Linked DNA regions of Homo sapiens: regions 1, 2 and 4 are each reported to be linked to region 3. Evidence: microRNA targets listed by miRTarBase, many of them from high-throughput screens and not tested one by one. Region 3 holds a microRNA gene; each other region holds the end of a gene's coding sequence.
What was found. Region 3 holds the annotated microRNA hsa-miR-552-3p (AACAGGUGACUGGUUAGACAA, at 2,088-2,108, opposite strand). A microRNA usually pairs through its seed, bases 2 to 8, with sites in the 3' UTR of a target mRNA and lowers its output. Matches are read on the target gene's strand: a 7mer-m8 pairs with bases 2 to 8, a 7mer-A1 pairs with bases 2 to 7 and ends in A, and an 8mer does both.

Region 1 (5,155 bases), not on the chromosome of region 3:
CTATCAGTCCCTGGTGATGAGGCAGAGAAACCTAAGGATTTAACTCTGGGAGCTCAACATGTCCTCCTGTTCCCACCTCATGTGGGAACAATCTTCCCTTCAAGATCTTTATTTTCAAAAGCAAGAAACTCTCACCTGGAGTCAGTTTAAGGTTCTGCCCTAAACTGTCAACTTTATAAACCCTTCTTCTAGGAGACAACCCAAATGAGACTTAGTCTCTAAGTCTCACCTTGACAGATTGTCTTTTTTTTTTTTTTAATTTTTGAGACAGAGTCTTGCTCTGTCAACCAGGCTGGAGTACAGTGGTGTGATCTCGGTTCACTGCAAACTCTGCCTCCCAGGTTCAAGCGATTCTCCTGTCTCAGCCTCCCAAGAAGCTGGGATTACAGGCGAGCGTGACCACACCTGGCTAATTTTTGTATTTTTAACAGAGACAGGGTTTCACCATGTTGGCCAGGCTAGTCTCAAACTCCTAACCTCAGGTGATCCGCCTGCCTCGGCCTCCCAAAGTGCTGGGATTACATGGGCCTTTGGTGTTCTTACACACACACACAGACACACACACACACACACACACACACACACACACACAAGCTCCTTCCCCACCCCAGTCACAAAGATACTCTCCTACATCTGATGCTAACTTTGTATTTTTGCTTTTCATCATTTTAGTGTTAATTTTCACATATGATATGAGATAAAGGTCTCAGTTCATCTTTCTGCAGGTTAATATCCAGTTGTCCCAGCACCATGTTGAAAACGCTTTCCCCATTATCTTGGGGCATTTGTAGAAAATCAACAGACCATAAATGAAGATTATTTCTGGTCTCTCTATTCTGTTCTACTGGTCTATGTCTAACATTATACTAGTAAATCTGGCTAATCTACTACCTGCCCTGTTGATGGATGGCCCCATTTCATTCCACATGATTGCCTTGCAGGTCCAGAAATGGTTTCAGAGCCAGGAGAAAATCTCTTTATTATTATTTAACTTACACTGTTATTTATTTTGAGACAGGGTCTCACTCTGTCACCCAGGCTGGAGTACAGAGGCATGATCATAGCTCACCACAGCCTCAAACTCCTGGGTTCAAGTTATCCTCCCACCCAGTAACTGGGACTACAAGCACATGTCAGCATGCCTGGCTAATTTTTTTTTTTTTTTTTTTCTGAGACAGGGTCTTGCTCTGTTGCCTAGGCTGGCGTGCAATGGCACAATCATGGCTCACTCCAATCTCACCCTGCCAAGCTCAAGCAATCCTTCCACCTCAGCTTCCCGAATAGCTGAGACTACAGGCGTGCACCACTACCCCAACTAATTTTTAAAATTATCTGTAGACACATGGTCTCCCTATGTTGCTGAGACTAGTCTCAAATTCCTAGACTCAAGTGATCCTCCTGCCTTAGCCTCCCAAAGTGTTGGGATTACAGGCTTGAGCCACCATGCCTGGGCCCCTGGCTATGAGAATCTGGGAAGCACTCCAACCACAAGTAAATAGTTCATCCACACCTGGATACTCCAAAATCACTGCACCCTGGATACACTGACTGTCTGCCCAGCAAGGAGAGTGAGCGACCACTGCTGGAAAATACTGCTTTTATGTGCATGACATGAGAAAAATTGTGTCTAGTTTACACATTCTAAAAAAGAAGGCCGGGCACAGTGGCTCACGCCTGTAATCCCAGCACTTTGGGAGGCCAAGGCAGATGGATCACAAGGTCAGGAGATTGAGACCATCCTGGCTAACACGGTGAAACCCTGTCTCTACTAAAAATACAAAATTAGCCAGGCATGGCGGCGGGTGCCTGTAATCCCAGCTACTCGGGAGGCTGAGGCAGGAGAATCACTTGAACCCAGGAGGCAGAGGTTGCAGTGAGCCGAGATAGCACCATTGCACTCCAGCCTGGGCAACAAGAGTGAAACTCCATCTCAAAAAATAAAATAAAATAAAATAAGAGATGGAGTCTCACTATGTTCCCCAGGCTGGTCTTGAACTCCTGGCCTCAAGCGATCCTCCCACCTCAGCCTCCCAAAGTGCTGGAATTACAGATGTTGTGTCACCACACCTGGCCAATAGTTATAAATGTTATAACATTTCTTTGATGATGCAAATTTTCTGGAGCACTATACATGAGTTAATTTGGATTGGATTTTCCCAAATTACTTACATTATGGGATTTCTCCCCAATGAGCACTGGGATGAGGAGACTTCAATCCACCAAAGTTGTATATATATATATCCATGGAGGTGATACTTAGGTCATCTCATCAGAAAACACTCATACTTGTCCACAAATAGATGTTGCATATGGCATTAGTACCATCCTCAGAAATTTATATATATTTGCAAGAAATATTATTTTAAGTCAATAGTATATGCTATCATGAATACAGGATATGCTCACTCCATAAGCAGCAAATTGACTCCTTCACAGTTTTAATAGATTTCCAGTTGTTTTGTCTTCAGTCTCCTAAGAAGACAATGCTATAATCTCCAACCACATTATTTGCTTCTTCCATCCCATTCTTCATATTGATCATTGTTGTGTGACATTAGTTGACTACTGTAATGATAAATAACTAGGGTAAAATAGATACATTTGCTCTTTCTTAGGTTCCATTCCTCCTTTCAGTGGGAAGCCTCACACACACTCTCATCATGCTCTGCTATGAAACATAGCTTAACCAAGAATCGTATATCCAGCAAAGCTCATGTTCAATACAAAACAAAAATTTAATTTTTCTGTTATGCTGATGAAAAAGTGTAAGTGATGTTCTTGCCTTCTAACACTGTTATCGCTGCCACAGCCACTTGGTCAAGGATCATCAAGCAGATTAAGGCAATTTACACCCATTTCAACTTTTTTTTTTTCTTCTTGAGACCGAGTCTCACTCTGTCACCCAGACTGGAGTGCAGTGGTAGGATCTTGGCTCACTGCAACCTCTGCCTCCTGGGTTCAAGTGATTCTCCTGCCTCAGCCTTCCAAGTAGCTGGGACTACATGCGCATGACACCAGGCCCAGCTAATTTTTGTATTTTTAGTAGAGATGGGGTTTCACCATGTTGACCAGGCTGGTATCAAACTTTTGACCTCAAGTTGATCCATCTGCCTCAGCCTCCTAAAGTGCTAGGATTACAGGTGTGAACAAGTGTGCCCAGCCCCACCTCAATATTTATACAATTTATGTTGCCTTGATTCTAACCCTGACTGTACCACAGTGTACTTATGGAAGAGCTTCACAATTGCAGATGCAACTGTGCTTACTGCAGAGGCTGTAGATGCCCTAAAGCCCAGGACACCCAAAGCATATTGGAAGCCATTGGAGTGAGGGAGTAAGTGATTTCAGGGGTTTCCCCAAGACTGATACAGCAGTCAGGAATATCTTAAATGTTGCAAAGAAAGTTGGTGGAAAGGAAACTGAAGATATACTGAAATCCTCTACAAGTGATGATGATGATGATGATGATGATGATGATGCTGCTGATGATGCAGAAGATTAAGAAGAGGAGCAGTGCCATTGATTTGGACACGCGAAAAATTTGCAGCAGATCTTGGGGCATCTATAGCCTCTGCAAGTTGCAAGTGTTAAAGATAATCAACCTCAGCTAACATCCTTTGATTGAAAAAAGCTTCTGTGTCATATAAGGGAAAATATGCTAATGAACACTAAGGTTTTTTTAGGGATTCAAAGAAAAAGAACTAGCTTCCTAAAACAATGCTTCTAACTAAATATCTGCAAATATGAAGACATACCCTTCAACACAAACATCTTCAGCCCTCAAGCTGAACAGATGCTGACATTAGTATTAGCCTCCTGCAAAGAGTCAACATCTTCAATCAGAACCTGGGTCTTCCAACATAGATGAAGGTCTTGATGTCCTGTCAAGATTCAAGTTAGCCTGAGGTCTCACTGTTTATCTATGATGCCACACATCTAGTCACCTCTACACATCACATTAGGCACCATACAGCAATCATCATTGTCATAACCATCGTAATACTTGGGTTATCAAGAGAGAAGAACCAGAATTGTGGTTGGTGTTAACACATTCTTTCAGGTCATTAGACAAAAGTAATCTGAGTATTGAAACAAGAAACTGTAACATTATAGGTGATATATACGATGTAGATAGGCCTGCAATGGTTGGGTCTGTACTGAACACATATAGATTTTTTTTCTTATGATTCCCTAAACAATACAACTATGTACACAGCTTTTACAATGCATGAGATATTTTAATTAATCTAGACATTTATAGAGTATACAGGAGAATGTGGGTAGGTACATGCGAATATTCCATTTTATAAAAGAGCTGGCATCTGTGGATTTAGGTATACTCAGGGTGTACTGGAACCAATCTTCTTGCATATAGCAGGCAGCAACTCTATTTGAAAGAAATGGAAACTTTTTTTTTTTTTTTTGAGATGGAGTCTCGCTCTAGCACCCAAGCTGGAGTGCAGTAGTGCAATCTCGGCTCACTGCAACCTCCACCTCCCGGGTTCAAGGGATTCTCCTGCCTCAGCCTCCTGAGTAGCTAGGACTACAGGTGTGAGCAACTATGCCTGGCTATTTTTTTTTTTTTCCGTATTTTTAGTAGAGACAGGGTTTCCCATGTTAGCCAGGCTGGTCTCGATCTCCTGGCCTCGTGATCTGCCCTCCTCGGCCTCTCAAAGTGCTGGGATTACAGGTGTGAGCCGCTGCGCCCAGCCTGGAAACTTCTTAAGGCTTTACCACGTTTACATTCACAGGATTTATTTCTTTCAAGTATCTGAATGTGATAAAACCAATGAATGCTTTCCCACATTCCATACACTTATAGAATATCCTTCCAGTGTGTCCTTTTATGTCTATTAAAGGAACTGAGAGAACTGAAGGCTTTCCCACATTCCTTACATTCATAGGGCTTCTCTCCAGTGTGAGTTCTTTCATGTTCTCGACAGAAACTGGAACGACTGAAGGCTTTACCACAGTGTTTACATTCATAGGGTCTTTCTCCAGTGTGAGTCCTTTCATGTCTTAGAAGGAAAGAGGGCCAAAAGAATGCTTTCCTGCATTGCTTACATTCATATGGCTTCTCTGCCGTGTGAGTCCTTTCATGAGTTTTTAAGTAACTGAAACGACTGAAGGCTTTGCCACAAATTTGACACTCATA
Region 2 (5,134 bases), not on the chromosome of region 3:
GTATTTGTATGATTCCATTTATTAGAATTGTTTTCATATAAATGTTGAAAATTTTCAGTTTATGAAATAGGTGTTATTTGATGTAATTCTCATAGCAAAGCATTACACGTAATTTAAAGGAAGAATTAAAAATTATTCCTGCCAAAGTAAACTGTATTTGATTATAAAGAAACAAGTTTTAGAAAGGTTAAGTACAAAAAATAATTGTTTAAGATTCAATAATTTTTGACTGCCACAGACATATACTAACAAACAAGGTAAATCTCTCATGAGGCATTTGAAGAAAACAGTTGGCTATCTAGCTGAGCAAATTCAGAAAGGGGGAATTATGTGAAAATTTAGAAAGTTAATGTGGAATTTAGAAAGTTAATGGTAACTTGTTCTGTAATCGTTTTAATATAATCAATTTCTTCATGTCTTTAGGAACTGGATAATTTCTGTAACCCCATCATTTACAAGCCCAAACCAAAAGCAGAAGTTCCTGAAGACAAACCAAAAGCTAATAGTGAACACAATGGCCCAATGGATGGACAGAGTGGAACTGAAACTAAATCAGATTCAACAAAAGACAGCTCACAGCATACTAAATCCTCTGGAGAGATGGAAGTGGACTAAGTCTTAATTTTACCTTCACATTAATTCAAACCGTGCAAGTAACCACGGGGTCCATCTTTTACATCTGGTACACACAACAGACGCTCAGTTGTTCTTAACCACTTTTGTCATTTGTTTTTTGGAGTAGTTTTGAAAAGTGTTTTATATTGAGTGCACTTCTGTTCATTTCCATTGCTGCTTATATGCAGTGTTAGCCGAATTAGATTTACAAGACAATCTAAGCTTTCCGGATAATTTTATATATCAAACATACAGGATGGATACATAGTTGGCAACAGTCTACCTTATTTAAAGCTTCTACTGGGATAAACCTCAATTCCTTTATTCAGGAAAGGATACTTTATTGCATTATTGTTGCAGAAGCATAGATTTAATTGCATCTTTATTTTGAAAAACAAATGAAAATTGATGGGGTTTAAAGCTACAGAGGCACTGACCTTTTTCTAGTTATTGTATTGCTACAATTTAAATATTAAAACAAATAAGAGCTTTCTCAACAAATTAGTCCATCTCATTGATGTACCACAGAAATCCAAAGCTTTGCTGTCATCACATAAATGAATTAAATCACATGTGAAAGGGAACACACCCAATTTTATGTTAAGGTGAAACCAGCAGTTTGCTTCTTTTATTAGTAATGTGGATTGATGTTTTCTCAGAGTAACTCGTTGTCTTTTCGCTTGAAATTTTTGATCTTGTCCTGAAGACTAGCTGCTGCTAAAACAATGCTAGCCTAAAGATACAGGAGTCTCTGACAAAATGACTTTCATGTTAAGGGGAAATGCTGTTTATCTACTCAGACATGCATCTGTGATGTTCATAGCCTTGTTTCAGTTATAATAGTTGTCTTGTTTTTTTCTTAATTGATTTTGTTAATAATACCTTAACACAGGGTAGGAAGAAGTGGCACAGTGTATTGCATTATATACATTTATCATTGATTTACCTAATGTTACCTTGTAGATTAAACACTATTAAGTGGTAATACTTGAAAAGGAGCACTTATACCATAAGTCTTAGGAAATAATGTTTGTAATAAACTTAACTATGTTACATATCAACAGGCAAAAATATAGAATGTTACATAGTGTTGTGTGATTAAATTATAGTTCCTGCTGTTAACATTACCTTTTGAAACCTTGGCTCCAGTTTTGGTGCTTCTTATACAAATTAAATGCGAAAAGGGACTGTAAACTTAAGATGTATTTTAAGGACTTTATCTGTGCTTCATCACCCAACTTGTTCACATTGTTAATTTCTGTCCAGAGACCTGAAACTGCTTAAGTATGGGAACAGACTGAAATGGTGTTTCAACCTGCAAGAGACAGAAGCATAGACAAGTATATGAGCCCTTATGTCCTTAATGCCAATCAACTAGATTGACCTAGGTTAAAATTTCAAAAGGCTCATTTTCTCCCAAAGCTAAATCTTTATATTAGGAACAATTAAATATTGACTTAAGTTGTAAAAATTGAGAGTACAATATCTTTAGGGATAGTCATTATTTCTCACAACTAGTTCTCTACGAGAGATTTTGTTTCTACAATGTAGTCAGCACTTAATGGAGAGTATGGAGTAGTGCATTTTGCAGGGATTTTTATTCCGTCTTTTGAGGGGAAGAATCTCTTTTTTGCATTAAAAAATCATATAAACTTAATATATTTTTAAACTCTCCTAGTCTTTAAACTTTCTCTTAATTCTCTTAAAATGAAATAGGTATATCCAATAGGTGATGAAATACATTTTTTACAAACATAGATGCTTTTTATTTGTATGTTGAATGTACAGATTCATTTCAAGAAAAGCATGAAGATAATGAAAGCAAATATGTAACAATACAAGTAGGGACTTTAGAGCTTCTATTTGGGTTAAAACATCCACTCACTTGGTTAGGAGCTATGCCTCAGAAACTTCCTGGGAGTAAATATGGGAACAACTTTTCTATTAATACATCTAAATTTTCTAGTATATCCTGACATTTTCCATTCCTGCTCTGAAGTCACTTTTAGTTTTGTGTTTTAGTCAGATAGTACCACTAATTTTTGTAATTATATAACACTTCATTTAATAACTTATATACATCCAAATATATATACTTTTTCTACCCAATTATTCAACTTAAAAGATTTCAAAAACGATTTAGCCTTATAATGTATTTATTTATTTAATTCATTAATGAAAGAGAGTGCTCTCTTTAATGCAGCTTTGGGTAGACAGTCTAATTCAGTCCAATTTTAATCTGCATTAAAATATGCAATGCTAGACAAAGATTTTCAAAATAAAAAGCTATTATTTCAGAAATTATTTTAAAAGATGCATAGTAAAACAGTGTTTTCCTATGGTAAGCAAATAAGAATGAAGTTTGTAGGGAATATTTGGAATGATTAATATAAATTAGTATACTTTGGCTCTGTGGAAAAGTGTAAATTGTGGTTTTAGAAACCAACTCTTGATAGTTGTACTGTGATTATAAAAAACAATTGTTAAATAATATAATGGAAGTTTGTGATAATTCCTTAGCAGTAATGTAAAATTATTAAGTTTTGGCCAGGCGCTGTGGCTCACGCCTGTAATCCTAGCACTTTGGGAGGCCAAGGCAGGCAGATCACCTGAGGTCAGGAGTTCAAGACCAGCCTGGCCAACATGGTGAAACCCTGTCTCTACTAAAAATACAAAAAAGTAGCCGGGCGTGGTGGCATGTCCCTGTAATCTCAGCTACCCGGGAGGCTCAGGCAGGAGAATCGCTGGAACCCAGGAGGCAGAGGCTGCCGTTAGCTGAGATCGTGCTCCTGCACTCCAGCCTGGGCAACAGAACAAGACTCCGTCTCAAAAAAAAAACAAAAATTCTTCCAAAAAACTAGAAAGAGCACAGCAAAGAATTTGGCTATTGAAATAACAGATAAACTTGATTTTGAAAAGGATAACAAGGCTGGGCACAGTGACTCACACCTGTAATCCTAGCACTTTGAGAGGCTAAGAAGGGAGGATCACTTGAACCCAGGAGTTCAAGACCAGCCTGAGAAACATAGTGAGACCCTGTCTCTAAAAAAATAAAAACTTAGCAAGGCATGGTGGTGCACACCTGTAGTCCTAGCTACTCAGGAGGCTGAGGTGGAGGATCACTTAAGCCTGAGAGGTCAAGGTTGCAATGAGCCATAATCATACCACTGCACTCCAGCCTGGGCAACAGAGTGAGGCCCTGTCTCAAACACATAAAAGGCAGTGGCCCACGCCTGTAATCCCAGCACTTTGGGAGGCCAAGGCGGGCAGATCACGAGGTCAGGAGATCAAGACCATCCTGGCTAACACGGTGAAACCCCGTCTCTACTAAAAATACAAAAAATTAGCTGGGCATGGTGGCGGGCGCCGGTAGTCCCAGCTACTCAGGAGGCTGAGGCAGGAGAATGGTGTGAACCCAGGAGGCGGAGGTTGCAGTGAGCCGAGATCGCGCCACTGCACTCCAGCCTGGGCAACAGAGCAAGACTCCATCTCAAAAACAAAACAAAACAAAAACATAAAAGGAAAACAAGACATTTACTAAGAAGAGCTAAAGGAAAGAATTAAAGGTTTCTTATGCTTTTTTGGGGGGGGGTGTCAATTTTTAGTATATTAAGAGCTAAAAGAAGTAAAGGTTTCTTAGACTTTTTTTGGGAGGGAGGCGTCAATTTTTAGTATATTTGTGATTAATTCCATGATAGAAGTCTTTAAAGAGAATTTTGGGGCTCAATAATTTAACATAATGTCAGTGTTAAAGCACTTAATCCAAATTAGCCCATCTTTAACTGTTTTGAAAAATCTATATTTATTAAAGGTAGTAGACATTTGAATATAGTAATCAAATTAACTGATTTTGTTTTCACCCTAAATACATACAACCATTCCTCCACTTTCATAAATTTGACAAATAATAAGCCTCTCCCATTAGGATTTTCTGTTTTATAGTAAATAGTTGGTATTTGGTAGTCCACAATTAAAGTCATTGCATTAATTTTACAAATTATAGATTTAGAAATGATTCTTAAGTTATTGGTAAAATATAACTTTCTCAGTTTTTAAAAGTTTACAAAATTTTTTTTTTTGTTTTGAGACAGAGTATGGCTTTGTTACCCAGGCTGGATTGCAATGGGGTGATCTAGGCTCACTGCAGCCTCCACCACCTGAGTTCAAGCGATTTTTCTGCCTCAACCTCTCCTGAGTAGCTGGGACTACAGGTGCATGACACCACACCCAGCTAATTTTTGTATTTTTATAGAGATGGAGTTTTGCCATGTTGGCCAGCCTGGTCTTGAACTCTTGAACTCCTGACCTCAGGTAATCCACCCACCTCAGACTCCCAAAGTGCTGGGATTACAGGCGTGAGCCACCATACCCGGCCAAAAATTTTTGCTTTTAAAGTTAATGTTATTTTGTGGTTAAACTTCTAAAGTTTTGAACTGTAAGCAGAATTTTGTTTTGTGATATTTTATTGTATAAACTGTTAATGAGAGGCACAGCTAATTGTACATATCAATATACATTT
Region 3 (5,155 bases):
CAATCCAAACATCACATGGTCACACGTCAGTGCTGCCTGCAAAGAAATCCATTTTACAAACAAACTTAGGGTAATAGGACCCAGATCTGTAATGCCTTATCCTGATTAATGACGGACCCACACACTGTTATATCCATGGTCACCAAGAGAAAAGCTAACATTCTTGGAAGCAGCATTACTCTTAAAATTGCAATAATCTCCAGGGAAAATAACCCAATTTAAACTTATTCCCTCTTTAGCTAGAATGTGTTTAACTCTTTTAAACTTGTTCTTTGCTGTTACCTGTGTCCTTCAAAGACATGCCCCTTGTTATTCTACGTAACTCCCTTCACTCAGACCTTCAATAATTGCAAAAGCAATTTAACCCCCAGTTTACCATGATACTATTAAAGAGTAAAATAGTCAGTAGCCCAAAGAAATTCTTAGGAAGCCAACACTTTCAATTGGCATGCTTTTTTTAGACCCTAAATTCATATGCATAAATATGCATTCGTTCAGTCTGTCAACCCACGTCTAGGTAATGGTTGAATAAGTTAGAGGAGCTCTCTGACGTCAGGGAACTTACATTCTAGTCAGAAGAGGCAGATACATGAATCAACAAACAAGACCATTCAGGATGCATACGCATTGATCTGAAAGTCTCTTCACTTCACTTGCCTGAGCTGAGGTGGGACCACAATCTTTGAAGAACCAAAGAAGGAGAGTTCTCAGAAGAGGTTATAGCAAGTGCAAAGGTCCTGTGGCAGGAAAGAGCTTGCCAGGCTCAGGAGGTGGAAACATACATTGCCAAATACAAATACACACACAACATATACACCAACACACACCAAAGACTTTCTACAAGGTTTCATTAAATACTGAGTGGGTACAAAAGATATTTATAAAACATGTCTGCTGTACAAAGAATAACAATAAAGGGAACATTCGTGTATCCCACCATCCAGTTTAGAAATGAAAGCGTGACCATCAAGCATGACCTCTTTGATCTGATTGCCTCTCTTCGTAACCCAGAGAAATGCTAATCTGAATTCATTCTCCAATGTTTTTTTTCTTTATCACCTTATATCCTGAACAATATATTGTTTAATACGTTTTTGATCTCTAAGACTAGAATCTTGCAGTTATGTAGGTTTGTATGGCTTGGGGTTTTTGTAGCCAAGTCAAAGCTATGATAAATTTGTTTCTGAAATTTTTGAGTGAAAGAGTTAATAATTTTTAATTAGAATTTGTTATTGAGATAATTATAAATTCATATGCAATTCTGTGTACCATTTATCCAGTTTCCCCCAGTGGTAACTGATATGGTCTGGCTGTGTCCCCACCCAAATCTCATCTTGAGTTGTAGCTCCCATAATTCCCACGTGTTGTGGGAGGGACCCAGGGGGAGATTATTGAATCACGGGGGTGGTTTCCCCCATACTGTTCTCATGGTAGTGAATAAGTCTCACAAGGTCTGATGGTTTTATAAGGGGAAACCCCTTTCACTTGGTTCTCATTTCTCTCATATCTGCCACCATGTAAGACGTGCCTTTCACCTTCTGCCATGATTGTGAGGCCTCCTCAGCCATGTGAAACTGTAAACCCATTAAACCTCTTTTCCTTTATAAACTACCCAGTCTCAGGTATGTCTTTATCAGCAGCATGAGAAGAGACTAATACAATAACATTTTTAAAACACTAGTACAATATCATAACCAGGATATTGACATGATACAGCTCACCAGTCTTACCCAGATTTCTCCAATTTACTTGTATCATTTGTGGTCTGTGTGTGTGTGTGTGTGTCCATCACTAAAGTCAAGACATCAGCCAGTCCATCACCATGAGGATCCTTCATGTTGTGCCTTTATAACCACCTCCCTCCACCTCACCACATTCTTAACCCTCAACAACCACTAATCCCTTCTCTATCTGTAACATTTGTCATTTCAAAATGTTATATAAATGTAATCATACATATGTAGCCTTTGGCATTGACTTTTTTCACTCATAATAATTCCCCAAAGATTCATCCAAGTTGTTTGTAATCAATAGCTTGTTGCTTGTTTATTGCTGAGTAGTATTCCATCCTGTGTATATACCACAGTTTGTCTAACCAGTCACCTGTTGAAAGGCATCTTCAACCAACAGGCAAAAGGTTAAACAAACTGTGGTATATTTGAATGGTTAAACAAACTGTAGTATATTCGACTATTACAAATAAAGCTGCTGTGAACACTTGGCTATTGCAAATAAAGCTCCCCAGGTTTTTGTGTGGACATAAGTTTTTATTTCCCTGGGATAAACACCTGAGGGCGCTACTGCTGGGTCATAGGCATGCTGGGTTTTATAATTAGCTGCCCTCTGTTTTCTAGGCTAGATCTACAATTTTACATCCCATCAACAATATATGAACAAGCCTATTTCTCTACATCCTTGCCAATGTTGGGTGTTCTCATTTTTTTTTTATTTTAGCAATTCTGATAGATGCATAGTGATATGTTATCATGGTTTTAATTTGCATTACCCTTATGTTGAACATATTTCATGGATTTTTTTTGCCATTTGAATAACTTACACTATGGAATATCTATTCATGTGTTTTGCCCATGTTCTAGTAGATTACTTGTTTTCTTTTTACCATTGAGTTTTGAGAGCTCTTATATAATCAAGATTCTAGTCCTTTTCAGGTGTGTGATTTGAAAATATCTTCTCCTACTCAGCAACTTGTCTATAGCTTGCTTTTTTACCCAAGATTATTGTCCTCAGTTTTATCTATGCAGATGGATTTTTTTGGTTTTGTTGCTGTATCATTCTACTATTGTTTTGTATTTTGCTGTATCATTATACTATTGATGGACATTGCTTATTGTTCTGCTTTCACAAGCCATGTTACCATGGGCTTTCTTGATGTGTCCACTGCTGCACCTATATAAGTTCTCTAAGGTATAGACCTAGTAACATTTCTGGATCACAGGGTATGTGCATTATTAATGTTATTAGATAATGCTGAATTTATGCCAAAGAAATTTCATCACTTAGAACTGCCACCAGCAGTGTAAAAGTTCCTATTACTCCATGCCTTTGCTAGCACTTGATCTTATCAGACTTTTTTTCAATTTTAACAATGTAATGGGCATATAATGATATCTATTTCATTTGTATTTCCCAAGTTACAAATAATCATACAAATAAATACAAATAGTTCCTTTACTTCCCTGGTGAAACTGAATATTCAGTCTAGACATTCAGATTTCCTGTTTCATTAAGTGTCTATTTAAGTTACTTTGCCCATTTTCGTATTGAGTTGTGTATTAGTCTGTTTTCACACTGCTATAAAGATACTACCTGAGACTGAGTAATTTATAAAGAAAGGGGTTTAATGGACTCACAGGGAAAGCCTCAGGAAACTTATAATCATGGCAGAAGGCAAAAGGGAAACAAGGCACATCTTCAAAAGGCAGTAGGAGAGGGAGAGAGAAAGAAGGAGAAAGAGCCACTTATCAAACAACCAGATCTCATGAGAATTCACTCACTACCACGAGAACAGCACGGGGGAAACTGGCCCCCTTGATCCAATCACCTCCCACCAGGTTCCTCCCTCTGTTGGCAGTGGCCGCTGCCATCATGCAGGCTGCAGCAGGGAGGCACCACCCCAGGGCTGCACACTCCGTGAGGCAGGCAGGAGCTGGTGACAAGTGGGAGCCCCACCCCTTTTGAGTTGGCAAGGCGGGAGTTCCCTAGGTGCAGCTGTGGCCACCCTCCCAAGCGCAGGACCCGAGAGTCTCTGCAGTCTTCACTCTTGGGGGCCTCAGAAGTCCCCCCCAACCCCCTGGCCCCACAGGCTCTAGAGTGTCTGCTCCTGCTGCCTGGCCTCTCCACTCCTGGCACCCTACTCCAATCTTGGAGCCAGGTTGGGGCCTATCCTGGGCACTGGCACAGCCTGGCCAGGTGTGCACATGCTTGGGGCAGTGCTGACATGCCAGTACCCTGCTACCTCGGCCTCCTCCAGAATTTGGGCAAAATGAGCATGAGAGGAGAAACTGAGGGGGAGGGCTGAGGGTGGCTTGGCACTGGCCTGCAGGTGCCTTTTGGTGCAAGCAGCCTGGGCACCATAGGCACCATGGATGGCAGCAGGAGGCAGACAGGCTCCTGGATTGAAGGGAGTGGATCCCTAGTAAGGCCCTACCTTTAGGCCAGGGATGGCCTGAAGGCTGGGGGCTGAGCAGTAAGTCCCGCAGATCAAAGTGGGGACTTGCAGTGCCTTTCAGGCCTGCCCATGGCCACCCATGGACCAACTGACACACACTTCCTCCCCTCTGACATCCGTAAAAGCCCCAGGCTCAGCTAAAGCAGGGTAGAGGATGGAGAGATGATGGGATGACCAACTTCAGAGAGGAGCTATCCTCTCTGCTGAGAGCTGGGAAGAAGAGAGGAAGACTTGCCTGTAGAGAGGAGCAACTTTCTCCAGAGCCTCCTCTCTGTTGAAAGCAGCAGACATCAGGATGACTGGCTGCAGAGAGGAGCTACCCTCTCCAGGGCCTCCTCTCTGTTGAAAGCAGCAGACATTGGGATGACCACCTGCAGAGAGGAACTACCATCTCCAGGGCCTCCTCTCTGTTGAGAGCTGAACCCCTGACAGGACAAGGATGACCAGCTGCAGAGAGGAGTTACCCTCTCTAGAGCCTCCTCTCTCTTGAGAGCTGAACCCTTAATGGGACAACCTGCCAGCAGAGAGGAGCCACAGACCCCAGGGCCTCCTCTCTGCTGAAAGCTGAACACTCAACGAGATGACCTGCCTGCAGAGAGGAGCTATCCACCACAGGTCTCTTCTGAGCATTCTAACACTCAATAAACCTCCTCTTCATCGTGTTTACCCTACACTTGTCTGTGTACCTCATTCTTCCTGGACACAGGACAAGACCTCAGCAAAGGTGCCACCAGCCACAGAGGTTTCTGGCCAATTGATACCCCAAAGATCCCTTAACACCTCAACACATAGGGATTACAATTCAGCTTACATTCAATATGAGATTTGGGTGGGGACACAGCCAAACCATATATCAGGTTGTCATTTTCTCATTGGCTTGCAGGAGGTTTTTTGTTTTTTGTTTTTAACATATTCTCAATGCTAATCTTTCCCACTTATTTGTGTTACAAATCTTTTCTTATAGCG
Region 4 (5,130 bases), not on the chromosome of region 3:
ACTGCGCTCGGCCCTTTCTGTGCTTTTAAAGAACATAATACTATGGTAGCTATATTGCTGACATGAAAGAACACAACTTTAATTTTGTCTTAGAATACTGTGGCATATAAATTAGAATTCAGAATTATGTATGTTATCCTCACTTTAGATAATACAACTGTTAAAATCTTTTTGACTTAATTTTACTTACAAATAGTTAATTATAAAAGCTTTGTAGAAGAAATGTTATATGTTGAACTGTTATTCTATTTTGTTTAGGAGAGAAGAACATCCAAAAAGACCCTCAGGAGAACATTTTTCTTTGTCAGGCATTACGGACCTTTTTTCCAAATTCTGAATTTCTTCATTCATGTGTTATGTCTTTAAAAAATAGACATGTTTCTAAAAGTAGCTGTAACTACAACCACCATCTCGATGTAGTAGACAATCTGACCTTAATGGTAGAACACACTGACATTCCTGAAGCTAGTCCAGCTAGTACACCACAAATCATTAAGCATAAAGCCTTAGACTTAGATGACAGATGGCAATTCAAGAGATCTCGGTTGTTAGATACACAAGACAAACGATCTAAAGCAGATACTGGTAGTAGTAACCAAGATAAAGCATCCAAAATGAGCAGCCCAGAAACAGATGAAGAAATTGAAAAGATGAAGGGTTTTGGTGAATATTCACGGTCTCCTACATTTTGATCCTTTTAACCTTACAAGGAGATTTTTTTATTTGGCTGATGGGTAAAGCCAAACATTTCTATTGTTTTTACTATGTTGAGCTACTTGCAGTAAGTTCATTTGTTTTTACTATGTTCACCTGTTTGCAGTAATACACAGATAACTCTTAGTGCATTTACTTCACAAAGTACTTTTTCAAACATCAGATGCTTTTATTTCCAAACCTTTTTTTCACCTTTCACTAAGTTGTTGAGGGGAAGGCTTACACAGACACATTCTTTAGAATTGGAAAAGTGAGACCAGGCACAGTGGCTCACACCTGTAATCCCAGCACTTAGGGAAGACAAGTCAGGAGGATTGATTGAAGTTAGGAGTTAGAGACCAGCCTGGGCAACGTATTGAGACCATGTCTATTAAAAAATAAAATGGAAAAGCAAGAATAGCCTTATTTTCAAAATATGGAAAGAAATTTATATGAAAATTTATCTGAGTCATTAAAATTCTCCTTAAGTGATACTTTTTTAGAAGTACATTATGGCTAGAGTTGCCAGATAAAATGCTGGATATCATGCAATAAATTTGCAAAACATCATCTAAAATTTAAATTTGTCCTACATTTGTACTTGCTAAATCTGGCAGCCTTAATTATTACACAACTATAACACAACACAAACAGTAATCTCTCCCCTAGTTTAGAGTCCTTTGCATGAAATTTAGCAAATCTATCATTTTGAATACAGTACAAGCCTGGTAATCCAGTGTATTTGGGATAGGCCAGTGGAACTCAGAACTGATACATATATACATGTATGTCTATCATATTCAATGTCTATTAGGTGTAAATCATCTCTTCATGTAAAAGACACTACTGGTTTGAGGGTAGACTCGTCTAGGAATATTTTGTCCTTCTGTGACAGCACCACTATCCATCCCAATGTAACATTTCTACAAAGGGAAGATATCTTAACCAGGCATACTTATATTTGCTAGTTGGAAAATCATTCTGAACAGTTTTAATTCCATTCTATTGAATGGATTATTGTATGAGCTATTTGGGGATCAGATATAAATGACAATCACACAGAACCACTTTTATTCAACATAGATAAAATGTGATGAGTGTTAACATTTTAAATAAGCAATCTGCTTAATGGACATTGGTATGAAGGGGAAGTGTCATTCTTTACCTCACTCCTCAAACACTTTTCTATCCAAAGGTTGGTTTGAGTCAGTATTGGCATCATACAACCACTTACTGTAAAATAAGTTTATTAGTGGTAACGTGATAGAATTTATTCCCGATATCTGATGTTACAAACTTTAGGGTCCTTGAGATATGCAGGATCCTTGTATGTAACTGGCATAAACCCTGTAAAGAGATAATTAAAGTTCTTGACAAAACATAATGAGCAAAATTTCAGCTAGCTCAATTCAGTTGTTGAGGTATTCTTTCTTACCCATTATTTGAGCTCTCTTAATTGCTTTTGTGATTTCTTTCTGTTTCTTCCCACAAAGACCTGTAAAATAAAAAGCTTTCTTATTCATAAAAAATGTCAATATTTAAAGTTTGCAATTTTTTTTTTTGAGATGGAGTCTCCCTGTGTCACCCAGGCTGGAGTACAGTGGTGCTCTCTCGCCTCACTGCAACCTCCGCCACCCAGGCTCAATCGATTATCTTGCCTCAGCCTCCTTAGTAACTGGAATTACAGGCATGCACCGCCACACCCGGATAATTTTTTTGTATTTGTAGTAGAAACGGGGTTTCACCATATTGGCCAGGCTGGTCCTGAACTCCTGGCCTCAGGTGATCTGCCCACCTCAGCCTCCCAAAGTGCTGGGATTACAGGTGTGAGCCAACATGCCCAGCCTCAACAAGTTTTTAAGTCAAGGATTGGTAAATCATTTTTGTCAAGGGCCACAATAATAATCTAGGTTTTGTGGGCCATACAGTCTCCATCACTGCCACTCAACTCTGCTGTTGTAGCTCGAAAACAACCATATGGCACTACGTAAACAAAACTACAAAAACAAGTGGGGTTGGGTGCAGTGGCTCACACCTGTAATCCCAGCACTTTGGGAGGCCTAGGCAGGTGGATCACCTGAGGTCAGGAATTCAAGACCAGCCTGGCCAACATGGAGAAACCCAATCTCTAAAAATACAAAAATTAGCCAGGCGTGGTGGTGCATGCCTGTAATCCCAGCTATTCGGGAGGCTGAAGCATGAGAATCACTTGAACCCAGGAGGCAGAGGTTGCAGTGAGCCGAGATTGTGCCACAGCACTCCAGCCTGGGTGACAGTGAGATTCCATCTCAAAAAAAAAAAAAAGTGGCATTTGTATATGATGAACCTAATCAAGATAAAAAGGGAGCAGGTCGAATTTGGCCTATGGGCCATAGTTTGCTGACACCAAGTTTAAGTATCAATCTAGGAATGATTATAGTATATTCCAAAACATCAACAACAGTTTTTTAAAGCCCAGTTTTTCTATATAGTTAACTCTGCATAAGACAGCAAAATAATAATCCTCTTGGCCTAAGAGACTTTTTCATAGTAACTAGCTCTAGTCCCTGTAGTATCTGATCTAGTAGTAATTTATAGCACAATTTGAAAATTTGAGTTTTCTTAAATGATAGAAATAGATTGATATAATTCGTATCTACATTTATATTCCCATAATAAAAAAGAACATACCTGTAATGTGCCTTCCATAAATGCATCCAGTAAATGGAGAAACAAACTGGGACAAAAGCTGTTTTGGAGTTTTATGTGGAGGGGAAAAAAAAGTATCTGTTATTTATTTCTGAATGTGTAAATTTCAAAAAACAACCTTCAGGTTATATAAAGCTTTACTAAATTTCAGACACATTTCATAAAATATAAGAAAAAAATATTGTTATCCTCCTGTTACCTTTTAAATATTTTCTATCCAGTGTGTCAAGTCTATATATAATTAAACAGCAGATTAATCAGCATATTCATTCAATGGTAAATCTGTTTTCTTGACTTCCACAGATACCTTTCTAAAATATTGCTTGAAACAAGCTACTAAAAAATTTCATCTATCCTGACAAGCTATCACATTACCCTCTGATAATCATTAAGATAAATTATCAGGGGGTAATGAGATTTTCAAGAGGTACAAGTACACCAGGCATTTGCTATAATTTATGTTTTATTTAAATACTTCTTTAGAACCTTTCTAGGTGCTAGTCATTATTCTTGGCACTTTGCATAATCTTCCTAGTATGTGTGTTTTTGTAATTCTTGGTTCTTCCTCAAAGGCAGCTATCACTTTATACTATTGTCAATATATGGAATTCTTTTTTTTTTTTTTTTTTTTTTTTGACAGAGTTTTACTCTTGTCACCCAGGCTGGAGTGCAATGGCACGATCTCAGCTCACTGCAACTTCCGCCTCCTGGGTTCAAGCAAATCTCCTGCCTCAGCCTCCCAAGTAGCTGGGATTACAGGCATGCACCACCACACTCAGCTAATTTTTGTATTTTTAATAGAGACGGGGTTTCACCACATTGGCCAGGCTGGTCTCAAACTCCTGACCTCAGGTGATCCGCCCGCCTTGGCCTCCCAAAGTGCTGGGATTACAGGCGTGAGCCACCACACCCAGCCAACATACAGAATTCTAGCGCTATTCACTTGCCCCAAATTTGCAACTTCTAACTTGCTGAGAGTTAGACAAGAGATAAGTAATATGTGAATCAGTGATATGGGTGGTGAGATAAAGAGATCAGCTTCACCAGATGAGCTTTTTCCAAAGTTCTGACCCTCACCAATTGAGAATTACTGCCACAGGGAGCTATTAAGATGTTTGGGGTAGTGAAAAAAACAGAGTGGAAATAACAGTAAGTGGGGGAAAGCCAAGGTGCTTTTACTTGAATAAAGCAGAGATAAGCTTATACATAGAATTATAACCAAATTTGAAATTATGAAGTTGCTAAAACAGTTACCTCTACAAAAGCCTGCTATAAACTGACTTGATTCTCTTTAAGCAGATCTATCAGAAGCAAAACCCTAAAATATAGTGAAGTAAAACCAGATCTCACCTGTACATTCTTATAATCTACATGCTTTCCACACAAGATACATTTCTTAAGAGGTTCTTTATAAGGATTTTCCATTGAAATGGGCTAGGGAAAAAAACGAAAAGTCTGATAATAGGATGTGTTAATTCTGAATTTTAAAAGGTTACTATTCTACATTCAAATCCATTCAAAGGATTAGTTATACCTTTCTTACTGTGTACATATTTTGTATAAGCACTTTATTTTGTTTTAGTTTAGCCTACGGATTAACGCATGGGAAGATTCTGGAATAAAGTACAATCTTCATAGAATAAAATTTTATGGCAGAACAAAAATGATGTCTGATAAGAAAGTGTTCCAATGCTTTGCTCAGATTGTAGATAATGAAAAAATTTTTAGATTTAAGGAAACTTACAACAC

Region 1: the mRNA of ZNF44 is a reported target of hsa-miR-552-3p. Seed matches in the 3' UTR shown: 8mer at 4,686-4,693 and 8mer at 4,545-4,552.
Region 2: miRTarBase lists HSPA4L as a target of hsa-miR-552-3p. Seed matches in the 3' UTR shown: 8mer at 3,562-3,569 and 8mer at 3,695-3,702.
Region 4: miRTarBase lists ABRAXAS1 as a target of hsa-miR-552-3p. Seed matches in the 3' UTR shown: 7mer-m8 at 808-814, 8mer at 988-995, 7mer-A1 at 2,187-2,193, 8mer at 2,726-2,733 and 7mer-A1 at 3,362-3,368.

The regions. Positions count from the first base shown.
Region 1 is chr19:12,267,591-12,272,745 of GRCh38, forward strand. It overlaps ZNF44 (zinc finger protein 44), which reads right to left. Exons shown (of 4, transcript NM_016264.4): 4 at 4,218-5,155. The coding sequence ends at 4,817. Among named protein-coding and RNA genes, the nearest start is that of ZNF44, 25 kb to the right of the region's middle.
Region 2 is chr4:127,832,260-127,837,393 of GRCh38, forward strand. It overlaps HSPA4L (heat shock protein family A (Hsp70) member 4 like), which reads left to right. Exons shown (of 19, transcript NM_014278.4): 19 at 424-5,134. The coding sequence ends at 615. Among named protein-coding and RNA genes, the nearest start is that of PLK4, 46 kb to the right of the region's middle.
Region 3 is chr1:34,667,527-34,672,681 of GRCh38, forward strand. MIR552 (microRNA 552) reads right to left here and starts at 2,168; the gene lies at 2,073-2,168. All of the region lies in intron 1 of LOC105378641 (a long non-coding RNA gene), which reads right to left.
Region 4 is chr4:83,458,031-83,463,160 of GRCh38, reverse strand. It overlaps ABRAXAS1 (abraxas 1, BRCA1 A complex subunit), which reads left to right. Exons shown (of 9, transcript NM_139076.3): 9 at 259-3,644. The coding sequence ends at 692. It overlaps MRPS18C (mitochondrial ribosomal protein S18C), which reads right to left. Exons shown (of 6, transcript NM_016067.4): 3 at 4,732-4,815; 4 at 3,364-3,421; 5 at 2,129-2,188; 6 at 863-2,040. The coding sequence ends at 1,964. Among named protein-coding and RNA genes, the nearest start is that of MRPS18C, 4.5 kb to the right of the region's middle.